2 separate regions of the Homo sapiens genome follow, and region 1 is linked to region 2. A link means that fine-mapping ties the variant in region 2 to the expression of a gene that starts in the linked region. Tissue or cell type: whole blood. Region 2 holds a variant in brackets; the other region holds the start of a gene. All regions are shown on one strand. Distances are from middle to middle. Region 1 holds the start of TNRC6A (trinucleotide repeat containing adaptor 6A). Region 2 has its middle 25 kb from the start of TNRC6A.

Evidence for each region.
Region 1: TNRC6A starts here. The variant in region 2 is fine-mapped to the expression of TNRC6A in whole blood (TOPMed, PIP 0.98).

The regions. Positions count from the first base shown.
Region 1 is chr16:24,727,297-24,732,681 of GRCh38, reverse strand. It overlaps TNRC6A (trinucleotide repeat containing adaptor 6A), which reads right to left and starts at 3,031. Exons shown (of 25, transcript NM_014494.4): 1 at 2,836-3,031; 2 at 2,382-2,429. The coding sequence starts at 2,840. RefSeq lists a silencer at 2,693-3,002.
Region 2 is chr16:24,702,404-24,707,788 of GRCh38, reverse strand. It overlaps a transcript of TNRC6A not described here. Among named protein-coding and RNA genes, the nearest start is that of TNRC6A, 25 kb to the left of the region's middle. The variant G/A (reference allele first, on the strand shown) is at 2,215.

The DNA.
Region 1 (5,385 bases), 25 kb before region 2:
GATGAAAAAACTGATCTAGAAGTATTGCATGCATCTGTGGGTCCCGCCTACCAAAAGAAATTTTCAAATTTTGCAAGTTCGAAGCCTAAAAAGTTACTCCAATTACCAGTGATATGGTCTCCTCCAAGTTACTTAACCTCTTTATACATCAAATTCTCCATCTGTAAAACGGAGATAACAATACTACCTACCTCACAGGGTTTTTCAAGGATCAGATGAGTCCATGTAAAATCTTAGGAAAAGTGTGCCAGGCACATAGTAAGCAATCAATAAATTTAACTACTTACATTCTTCCCTGGCTTAGTGCCCAGTCCCACAGTTGAAATATCGAAAATGCTCAAAAAATGGTTACTCAATGAATACAATGCCTTGATTTCCTGGAGAGAGCACTATGGGTAAAGACAGATACATTCTTTTTTGTGAAAAAGGAAACACAGCTAGAGATGGAGATGAAGGAAGCATCTGCCCACCTAATCACCTCTCTCCTTCCTCAGAACACTTTTAACCTGCAAGAAATGCTCCCCTCTCATTGGATCCTTAGTACACACTGCCTTACAATCTCTTTGATATTTGTTTTTCCTTTCATGCCTTCTGACCGACTGAATATTCTCAAGCACATGAATGGGATGGTATCTTTTGATTCCTACGTCATCTACCTAGTACTACTGTTATTTATGCATTTATGATAGTCTTTCTACTAGACTGTACATGCCCTCTGTGAACACGGACAGCACTTTACTCCTTTTATGTAACCCAAAGGGCCTAACAGACCTCAGCAACTGGCTGGCCCACGCCGCTCGTTTTATAGATTGGACAGAGAGGCTAAGTGACTTGCCAAGAGTCAAGGTCATATTGCAAGTAGCAGAGCTGGAATTCAAACTCTGATAAATAGCCAACCCAGACTCGAGTTCTACCTAATATTAAAATTATACCTGTGGCACAGACAATTTTTAATTAAGTACTAGAGCACCTTCATAGGAATTATACTGATATAGTTACCTGATAAAACAAAAATGGAAGGAGAAACAGACCTCTAAGCTCTGTTCTGCTGATATTACACCTTAATGGCTCAACCTGTTTTCTTTAATGGTTTCATATCTTAACATTTCCTTACTAGATTTTGACAAAATTTATGTAAATATACCACAAATAGTCAGTGATGTCAGACTTAATTTCCTTTAAATGATCCCATAATTATTTTGAGTAACAGAGAATCCCTTACTGGGTAAACCAATGATGCCTATCCTTCACCATCTGAACACATTCTTTAACGATCACCTGAACAGATTAGTATCTTATGAAACTCAATAGGCCAGCAATTTGGAACAATTCTACGCGGTGCAAAATATTCAGACGATTTGAAATGTGAGTGTTAAAAACCCCAATGTAAACCTAAAACCCGCAATCATCAAGAGCAAACTACATTAAAACCTGAGATAGGAGAAATTTCATTTTATTTTCAACAAGTGAAAAAAAAGAAAAAAAGAAAGCTATTCACGGATTTGGTTAATTGGCTAAGTTTCCCTGAGTGTCCCAATATGATGCAAAAGAAAAAGGGGAATAAGAAAGGAAAAGACGGTAGGAAAGAAAATGAATGTGAAAAGGAGTTAAATACAGTACAATTCCTTGATGCTTAAGCAATTACAGCTCAATGAAGCTAAATATTTCCATTCCATAAAGACATCGTTTAAAAAAAAAAAAAAATTCTCCCTTCACGGTGATGCAAAAGCAGCAGGGCCCAACAGGAACGATAACCTCTTCTGGAGAAAAGATTTTTAATTATTTTACCAGCTGATAAAAAGAGCACACACCGAACATGGACAGAAATGGAGTTTCGAAGGAAAACAAAACGCAGCTTATGCTTGGTAAAGTTCAAGGACAAAACTGTGTCCAATGCAACAGAATCCGCCTGACTACAATGTATGGGGGGGGGGGGGGGGCGGGGGGGAATGCGAACACATAGTATCTTTTTATAAAAGCAACAATTTGAGCTACAAAGTAATAACGGGGAAGCCAAAACAGTTTGACAGCCCGCCATAAGGGCCGCCTCAATCATGAGTCACACAATGCCTGCAACCATTTACAATAGTAATTAATGCACAAGTCCCCTAATTAAATTCTAAAAGGGTGAGAATGCTTTAACTAAGTTTACAAGAATTGCTTTGCGCTTTTTTTTTTTTTTTTTAAAGAAAGAAACACACGCGTAATTACGCATCTCCCCGCAATCCCTCCAGTATTCCCCCAGGCCGCTTCTCCCGAATGTCTGCTCTCCGGGTGCGGAAGAAAATGTCACGGGGGAACTTCTCAACCCAGAAAAGGCGAATCGGAGTAGAAATATACGATTATCGTGGGGCGGGAGACGGAAAGCTCGCCCATCTTACCTGCTAAGATTTCTTTCTACGTCTTTGGTAGCTTTAGCTTCCAATTCTCTGAAACAAAAAAACAAAAACAAAAACAAAACAAAAACACACACACAAAAACGAGATGCGCGTGAAAACGGAGCTGCTGCGGCAGAGGCTCGCGCCGGGGCCGGATGGGGGAGGGGAGAGGACGGGGGGAGGGGGACTCACAAAGCTGCGGGGCTGCAGCCCGGACTGCGGTCCCGCGGCGCGGGCGAGGCGCAACCCCGGCCTGGCCCCCGCGGCGCGGCGCAGCGAGGCTCCCCCGGGCCGCCCGCTCGGCCTCCGCAGCAACGCAGCCTGCGCCCTCCCGCCGAGGCCCGAAGTCTCGGGGACGCCCGGCGCCGCCGCCTCTGCTGCCGCCGCCGCGGGTTGCGGGCCCTGCGGCAGCGCCCGCGGCTCCTCCCGCCCGGAGGGAGGCCCTTGTTCCGCTCACCTCATGTGTGTAAAGTGCACGAGCAAGTGGGGCGCGGCGAAGGAGGCTCGCGAGCCTCAAGCCCTCCGCAGCGCCGCGGGGAGAGGCCCGAGCCGCTGCACCAGCGCCATTTTCTACACCGACCCGCTGCCGCCGCCGCCGCCGCCGCCGCCGCCGCCGCCGACACCGCCGCCGCCGCAGGCCCCAGACCGGAAGTGAATGCCCCACTCGGCAACCCCTTCCGGGGGCGCCACGGCCACTGGCCCCCAAGATGGAGGCCCTAGCAACTGGACCCGCAGATTGGGCAGGTCCTTGGCAACCGCCCCGGCGTGTCACGCTGCACCCAGCCGGACCTCCCTGGAGGTCACAGCCTCCGAGGCGCCCCGCGGAGTGGCTGGGGGGGCCTGCGGAGTCCCGAGTCCAACCTTTTTCGGTGCGGCCGGCTCCGGTCTGACCGAGGAGGGGAGTCCCTCCCCTCCTCCTCCTTCTTTGCTGCGACACAAGTTTCCTACCCGCCGCCCGGCCCCTCCCCCACTGACACACGCCAAAAAAAAAAAAAAAAAAAATTGCCTAAAACGCAAATTTTACCCCAACTGCAGCCTGATGAGCCCGCGCGGCTTTTGAATTCAGCCACTTCTAATTATTTTTGACCTTGGGCCAGTTATTTAACCTCTCTGCTTCTCTGTTCCTCCTCAGGTAAAGAATGCATACCTGAGGCGGGTTGTGAGGCTTAAAAGCGATTTTTATCCACCGACCTTTGACTCAGCAGTTCCGCCTGCACGGATTTTCTGCTCAGGAAATAATTCTGGGTATCTGCAAATATTTCACCTTCGAGATACTAAGCTGTGGTATTGATGATGGTGAAAAATTGCAAACAGCCAAAATGTCCAGCGCTACTAGATGGCTTCAAAAACAGCTACTGGCATGTATTAGGACACTGTAAAAATGATGTGGAGGAATAATCCCGGCATGGAGGAAATGGTTGCAATAGAATAAATGAAAAAGCAGGTTCCAACGTAGCTCACACAGTAAGAAACATCTTAGTGTAGACACAGTAAGATACATACATGTAGATAGACTAAGATATGTATATATGTAGACACAGATGCATATGTGTACATTAAAAGTATACATACATACCTACATGTAGATACAATAAGACATACATATCTGCAGGTAGATACAACAATACACATACATGTAGATACAGTAAGATACATATTTTCACTTGCGTGTGTTCTTTCCAACCTCTCATCAAGCTTTTTCTTCTAATTTAAAGATAATTCCTCCTCTGTGCTTAAAATCTATAACCTTTACTTTCTCAGAAACCCCACTCTGTGGATCATCCCATTCTCCTTTTTCTAACCTAAGTTCTTCAACTGGCTTTTTTTTTTATTTTTTTATTATATTATCATTTTTTTTAGGCGGAGTCTCGCTCTGTCTCCCAGGCTGGAGTGCAGTGGCGCGATCTCCGTTCACCGCAACCTCCGCCTCCCGAGTTCAAGCAATTCTCCTGCCTTAGCCTCCCAAGTAGCTGGGATTACAGACACGCACCACTGCGCCTAGCTATTTTTGTATTTTTAGTAATGACGGGGTTTCGTCATGTTGGCCAGGCTGGTCTTGAACTCCTGACCTCAGGTGATCGCCCCCCTCGGCCTCCCAAGGTGTTGGGATTACAGGCGTGAGCCACCGCGCCCAGCTTCAACTGGCTTTACAACATGCTTGAATCTCTCCCGTTAAAAACAAACAAAACTTCCCTAGACATGTTGGGTTCCTGTCCTCTCCGATAGGTTAAGCTAGTGAATGAATGCACAGAAAGTCATGAAACATATGCACCAAAACGTTAACTGATTATGACTTTTTTTCATTTTCTTCTTTTAGTGTATCTGTTTTTTTCTTTTTTGCGATGAGCATATAAAAAACACTTTTTTGAAAAAAAAAATCAGGTTTACAAAATATAAAATGTAGTGGGCACCGAATAAATGCTAGTGACTTTCCTTTTCCTGCTATCATCCCTGAGGTTCATTTACCTACACACATATTTGTTTTTCTTTCATAATCCTTTCTACTTAAAATGTTTAAAAGTTACTATGGTGTTTCATTAGGAGTTTAAAAATATGAACATATACGTAATGGCACAATATGCTTTCATACCAGGTTTAGGAATAATTTTTCACAACAACATAAGGCAATGAAAACAGTCATATTTATCAACATTTGCACAGCTGTTAAGATTGGCTGATTTTTTTTTTATTAGACTTTTTTAGGTTTTAATGACTCAGTGATTCTTAATTGGGACAATGTTGCCCCCATCCCTACCCCTGGGGACATTTAGCAATGAACTTTTTGGTTGTCACACTGGATGCTACTGATTGGTATCTGATAGCTACAGACCAGGGATTCTACTAAATATTCTACGATGCGTAGGACAGTCCCCTACAACACGGGAGTATCTGAACCAAAATGCCAATAGCACCAAGGTTGAGAAAGCCTGGAACTAATTCCCAGCTCCAGCAAAGCTAATAAGATATGATTTCTTGGCCAGGCGCGGTGGCTCATGCCTGTAATCCC
Region 2 (5,385 bases):
CCGCACTGGCCCATTGTGGCCATTATTTAACACTATCTTTGCCAACTCATCTCACTTTAATTTGTATGTCTTTAGTCACTAGTAAGGTTGAGAAATTTTTTGTGTGTTTTTATGTATTTATGAGCAATTTATATTTCTTTTTTTGTGAGCTACATCATTCTTTGCCCAATTTAAAAACTATTCATATTTTTTCTTTTTAATTATAAGAGCTCTTTGTTTATTAAGGACATTTATTCTTCGTCTGTTGCATGAATTGTAGAAACATTTCTCCTAGCTTGTTACCTACCTTTTAATTTAGCCTATGGTATTTTTATACTGTGCAGCTATTTTGAATTTTATGTAGCTAATTTTTTCTTTTTAGCATCTGAGTTTTGTGTCTGGCTTAGAAAGATTTTCTCTTATTTAAGATGTGTGTGTGTGTGTGTGTGTGTGTGTGTGCGCCCATGTTCCCCTTTCATCCTGTTTTATTTATTTACATTTAAATTGTTTATCTGGCTGGATGCGGTGGCACATGCCTGTAATCCTAGCACTTTGGTAGGCCAAAGCAGGTGGATCACTTGAGGTCAGGAGTTTGAGACCAGCCTGGCCAATATGTTGAAACCCTGTCTCTACTAAAAATACAAAAATTAGCCAAGTGTGGTGGCATGCACCTGTGGCCCTAGCTACTCAGGAGGGTGAGGAAGGAGGATCTCTTGCACCCTGGAGACAGAGACCGCAATGAGTTGAGATCGTGCTACTGCACTCCAGCCTGGGTGACAGAGTAACCCTGTCTCAAAATAAATAAATAAATAAATAAATACATAAATAAAAATAGATAAATAAATAAATACATCGTTTATCTGTCTGGAATTTATTTGGCGTAAGGAATCAGACAGGCATCCAGCTTTAACTTAAGTTTTTCAAATGGCTAGCCAATTACTCTAACAGCAATTACTGCACTGCCTAATTTTATTTTTTTCTCTCTGATTTCAAATATGGTTTTACCATTTAGTAGCTTCTCAAATGTATTTGGGTCTATTTCTAGATTCTAATCTGCTTCATTAATCTGCTTTTCTTTTCATGCACAAGTACGAAACTTTTTTTTTTTTTTTTTTTTTGAGACAGAGTCTCGCTCTGTCACCCAGGCTGGAGTGCAGTAGCGCGATCTGGGCTCACTGCAAGCTCCGTCTCCTGGGTTCACGCCATTCTCCTGCTTCAGGCGCCCGCCACTACGCCCGGCTAATTTTATTTTTTGTATTTTTAGTGGAGATGGGGTTTCACCGTGTTAGACAGGATAGTCTCGATCTCCTGACCTCGTGATCCACCCACCTCGGCCTCCCAAAGTGCTGGGATTATAGGCGTGAGCCACTGCGCCCGGCCAAGTACTAAACTTTTAAAAATATAAATGTAGCTTTATAATGTGCTTCAATACCTAGGAGGGTTAATTCTTTTTTATTACTTTCCTTTTTCAAAATTTTCCTGGCTAGCCTCACTTGTTTATTTTTCCATTTGAACTTTAGACTCAATGAGGCTACTTCCAAAAAAACCTCATAATGTATTTTTATTGATATAAAATTAAAGGTTAAGTTTAATTTAGGGAGAATGTGCATCTTTACATCATGAAATCTTCTAATTGATGAACAAAGTGTGTATTTTCATTTATTTCTTCTTTCATTTTCCTACATTTTTGTTGTTGCTGATGTTGTAAGTGTGAGCGTTGGTGCTATTTTAAGTACAAGGTTTTCTTCCATTTTGTTTCCTAGCTTTTTCCCTGAAACATAGAAGTGCTGTTGATTGTGTAACCAACTACATTACTGACTTAACTCATTGTTTATGAGAGACTTTCCAGGAGTACTCTTGGATTGGCTAGATATGCAATCATATTACCTGCAAATAGTCATTATGTTGTCTCCACTTTGTAATTCTTAAAATTTGTATTTTTTATCTTTATATACCTAGAATAATATTAAATAAGTGGAAATATTATTTCTCTTACCCTGTTCCTGACTTTAATGGAAAATGCTTCTAGTGTGCAACATTAAACAAGATGCTATTTTTAAACTTAAATATGTTTTTATCATATCAATACTGGATATTGAATTTTGTTAAATATTCTTGTAGTCTCTAAGAAAGGTCATGTAGTTATTCTCATTTAACCAGTATTAAGAATTCACCTAAGGCTGGGTGCGGTGACTCATGCCTGTAATCCCAGCACTTTAGGAGGCCAAGGCAGGC[G/A]GATCACCAGAAGTCAGGAGTTCGAGACCAGCCTGGCCAACATGGCGAAACGCCATCTCTACTAAAATTACAAAAATTAGTTGGGCATGGTGGCATGTGCCTGTAATCCCAGCTACTTGGGAGGCTGAGGCAGGAGAATCACTGGAACCCGGGAGTTGGAGGCTGCAGTGAGCTGAGATCGTGCCACTGCACTCCAGCCTGGGTGACACAGTGAGATTCTGTCTCAAAAAAAAAAAAAAAATTCATCTAATATCAATAGATAGTCTGTATAAGATAGAGTTTGAGAGGCCATCCTGGCTGGTTCTAGACTCTAGAAATTCTAGATGTGCCATGCATTAACTGTGTGATCTGGGCAAGTTTCTTAGCCTCTCTGTGCCTTGGTTGCTGCCTCTGTAAAACAAAATTAATAATAGCATCTAGCTCAAAGGGTTGTTGCTGGATTTAAGTGAATAAATATAAATAAGGTGTTTTGAACAGTGATTGGTTCATAGTAAATACCATATAGGTACTAATCATTAGCATCACCTTTCTAGAATGACTCCACTTGCGCTAAGCTTTTTAAAAATTAAAAAAAATTTAAGTTCATTTTAAATTTTTTTGTAGAGACAGGGTCTCGTTATGTTGCCCATGCTGGTCTTAAACTCCTGGCCTCAAGTGATCCTCTTGCCTCAGCCTCCCAAAGTGCTGGGACAGGTGTGAACCATCGTGCCCTAGTGTGCTGAGATTTTCTGTTATTACTGTTTTAAATAAAGATATTTATTTACTTGTGAAAGTATTGCATGCACCCAGAAAAGTGCACAGCTGGGGGATTTGCTACAAAAGTGAGTACGTAAATAATATACCCCCTTATACTCACTTAATGTCATAATTTTTTTCTTTCTTTTTTTTTTTTTTTTTTTTTTTTTTTTTTGAGACGGAGTCTTGTTCTGTCACCCAGGCTGGAGTGCTGTGGTGTGATGTTGGCTCACTGTAACCTCCACCTCCCAGATTCAAGTGATTCTCCTGCTTCAGCCTCCTGAGTAGCTGGGATTACAGGTGTGTGCCACCACACCCAGCTACTTTTTGTATTTTTAGTAGAGATGGGGTTTCACCATGTTGGCCAGGCTGACATCAGGTGATCTGCCCGCCTTGGCCTCCCAAAGTGCTGGATTACAGGCGTGAGCCACCATGCCTGGCCTTAATGTTATAATTTTCAAAAGCATTTTATATCACTGCATTTGTTCCACAGAATCATGTCACAATGTATGTTAAAAAATATGAATACACACATGCAATGCCCTCCCGCCCCCCACCAGTCTCTACCAAATACAAAAATTAGCCAGGTGCAGTGGTGCACACCTGTAGCCCCAGCTACTTGGAGACTGAGTCAGGAGAATTGCTTGAACCTAGGAGGCGAAGTTTGCAGTGAGCTGAGATCGTGCCACTGCACTCTAGCCTGAGCAACAGAAGGAGACTTTGTCTCCAAAAAAAAATTTTTTTTTTTTTTTTTTTTGATACAAGGTCTCATTCCATCACCCAGGCTGGGTGCAGTGGTGTGAACACATTTCACTGCAGGTTTGACCTCCTGGGCTCAAGTGATCCTCCTGCCTCAGCCTCCCAAGTAGCTGGGACTACAAGTACGCATCACCACGCCCAGTTGATCTTTCTATCTTTTGTAGAGGTGGGGTTTCGCCATGTTGCCCAGGCTGGTCTTGAACTCCTGACCTCAGGTGATCTGTCCACCTTGGCCTCCCAAAGTGCTGGGATTACAGGCGTGAGCCACCACGCCCGGCCAAAAAAAAATCTAAACATAGAGTTTACCATATTACCCACCAACTCTAATTCTAGGTGTATACTCAAGAGAAATGAAAGCATATATCCACACAAAAACTTGCATATAAATGTTTATAACAGTTTTATTCATAATAGGGAAAAAGTAGAAGTAACTCAAATGTCCATCAATGAATGAAGGTATAAATAAAATTTATTTTTTCACTGGAATTGTCTCTCTAGAGATGATGTTTGTTTTTATATATTAATTTATTTTTTGAGATGGGATCTTACTATGTTGCCTAGGCTGGCCTCAATCTCCTGGGCTCAAGTGATCCTCTTACCTCGGCCTCCTGAGTAACAGACTACAGATGTGCACTACCATATCTAGCTAACAAAATTTAGCACATCCATTCAATGGACTAATATTTGGCATAAAAAGGAGTTGAGTACTGACACATGCTATGGCATGGTTGGCCCTTGAAAACATTATGGTAAGTGAAATAAACCAGACACAAAGAACAACATATAATGTCATTCCATTTATATGAAATGTCTCGAATAGGTAAATCCATAGAGAGAGGAAGTAGATTAGTGGTTGCTGGGGGCCGGGAGTGAGTGATCAGGAGATGGGGGTGATAGTTAAAGAATGTGGGTTTTTTAGGTGGTGAATAAAATATTCTAAAATTGATTGTGGTGATGGTTGCACAACTCTGTGAATGTATTAAACACCATTGAATTGGATGCTTTATTTTATTTTATTTTATTTTATTTTATTTTATTTTATTTTTGACACAGAGTCTCGCACTGTCACCCAGGCTGGAGTGCAGTGGCGCGATCTCGGCTCACTGCAAGCTCTGCCTCCTGGGTTCACATCATTCTCCTGCCTCAGCCTCCTGAGTAGCTGGGACTACAGGTGCCCGCCACCACGCTCAGCTAATTTTTTGTATTTTTAGTAGGGACGGTGTTTCACCATGTTAACCAGGATGGTCTCGATCTCCTGACCTCATGATCTGCCTGCCTCAGCCTCCCAAAGTGCTGGGATTACAGGCGTGAGCCACTGCGCCTGGCTGTATGCTTTATTTTTTTAGAGTTAGCATCTCACTGTGTCACCCGGGCTAAAGTGCGGTGGGATGATCACAGCTCACTGCAGCCTCGAACCCCTGGTTTCAAGAGGTGTCACCGTGCCCAGCCAAATTGTATATTTTAAGTGTGTGAATTGTAGGGTATGTGAATTATTTCTCAAAAAAGCTGTTACTGAAAAAATGACAATTTCATATGGTCCAATCTAATCTGCAATAGCTTAAATAGCAGTGGTATACTATGATAAGGTTTGAAGATTTGATAGAGCCAGGCATGGTGGCTCATGCCTATAATCCTAGCACTTTGGGAGGCTGAGGTGGGTGGCTTGTTTTAGCCCAG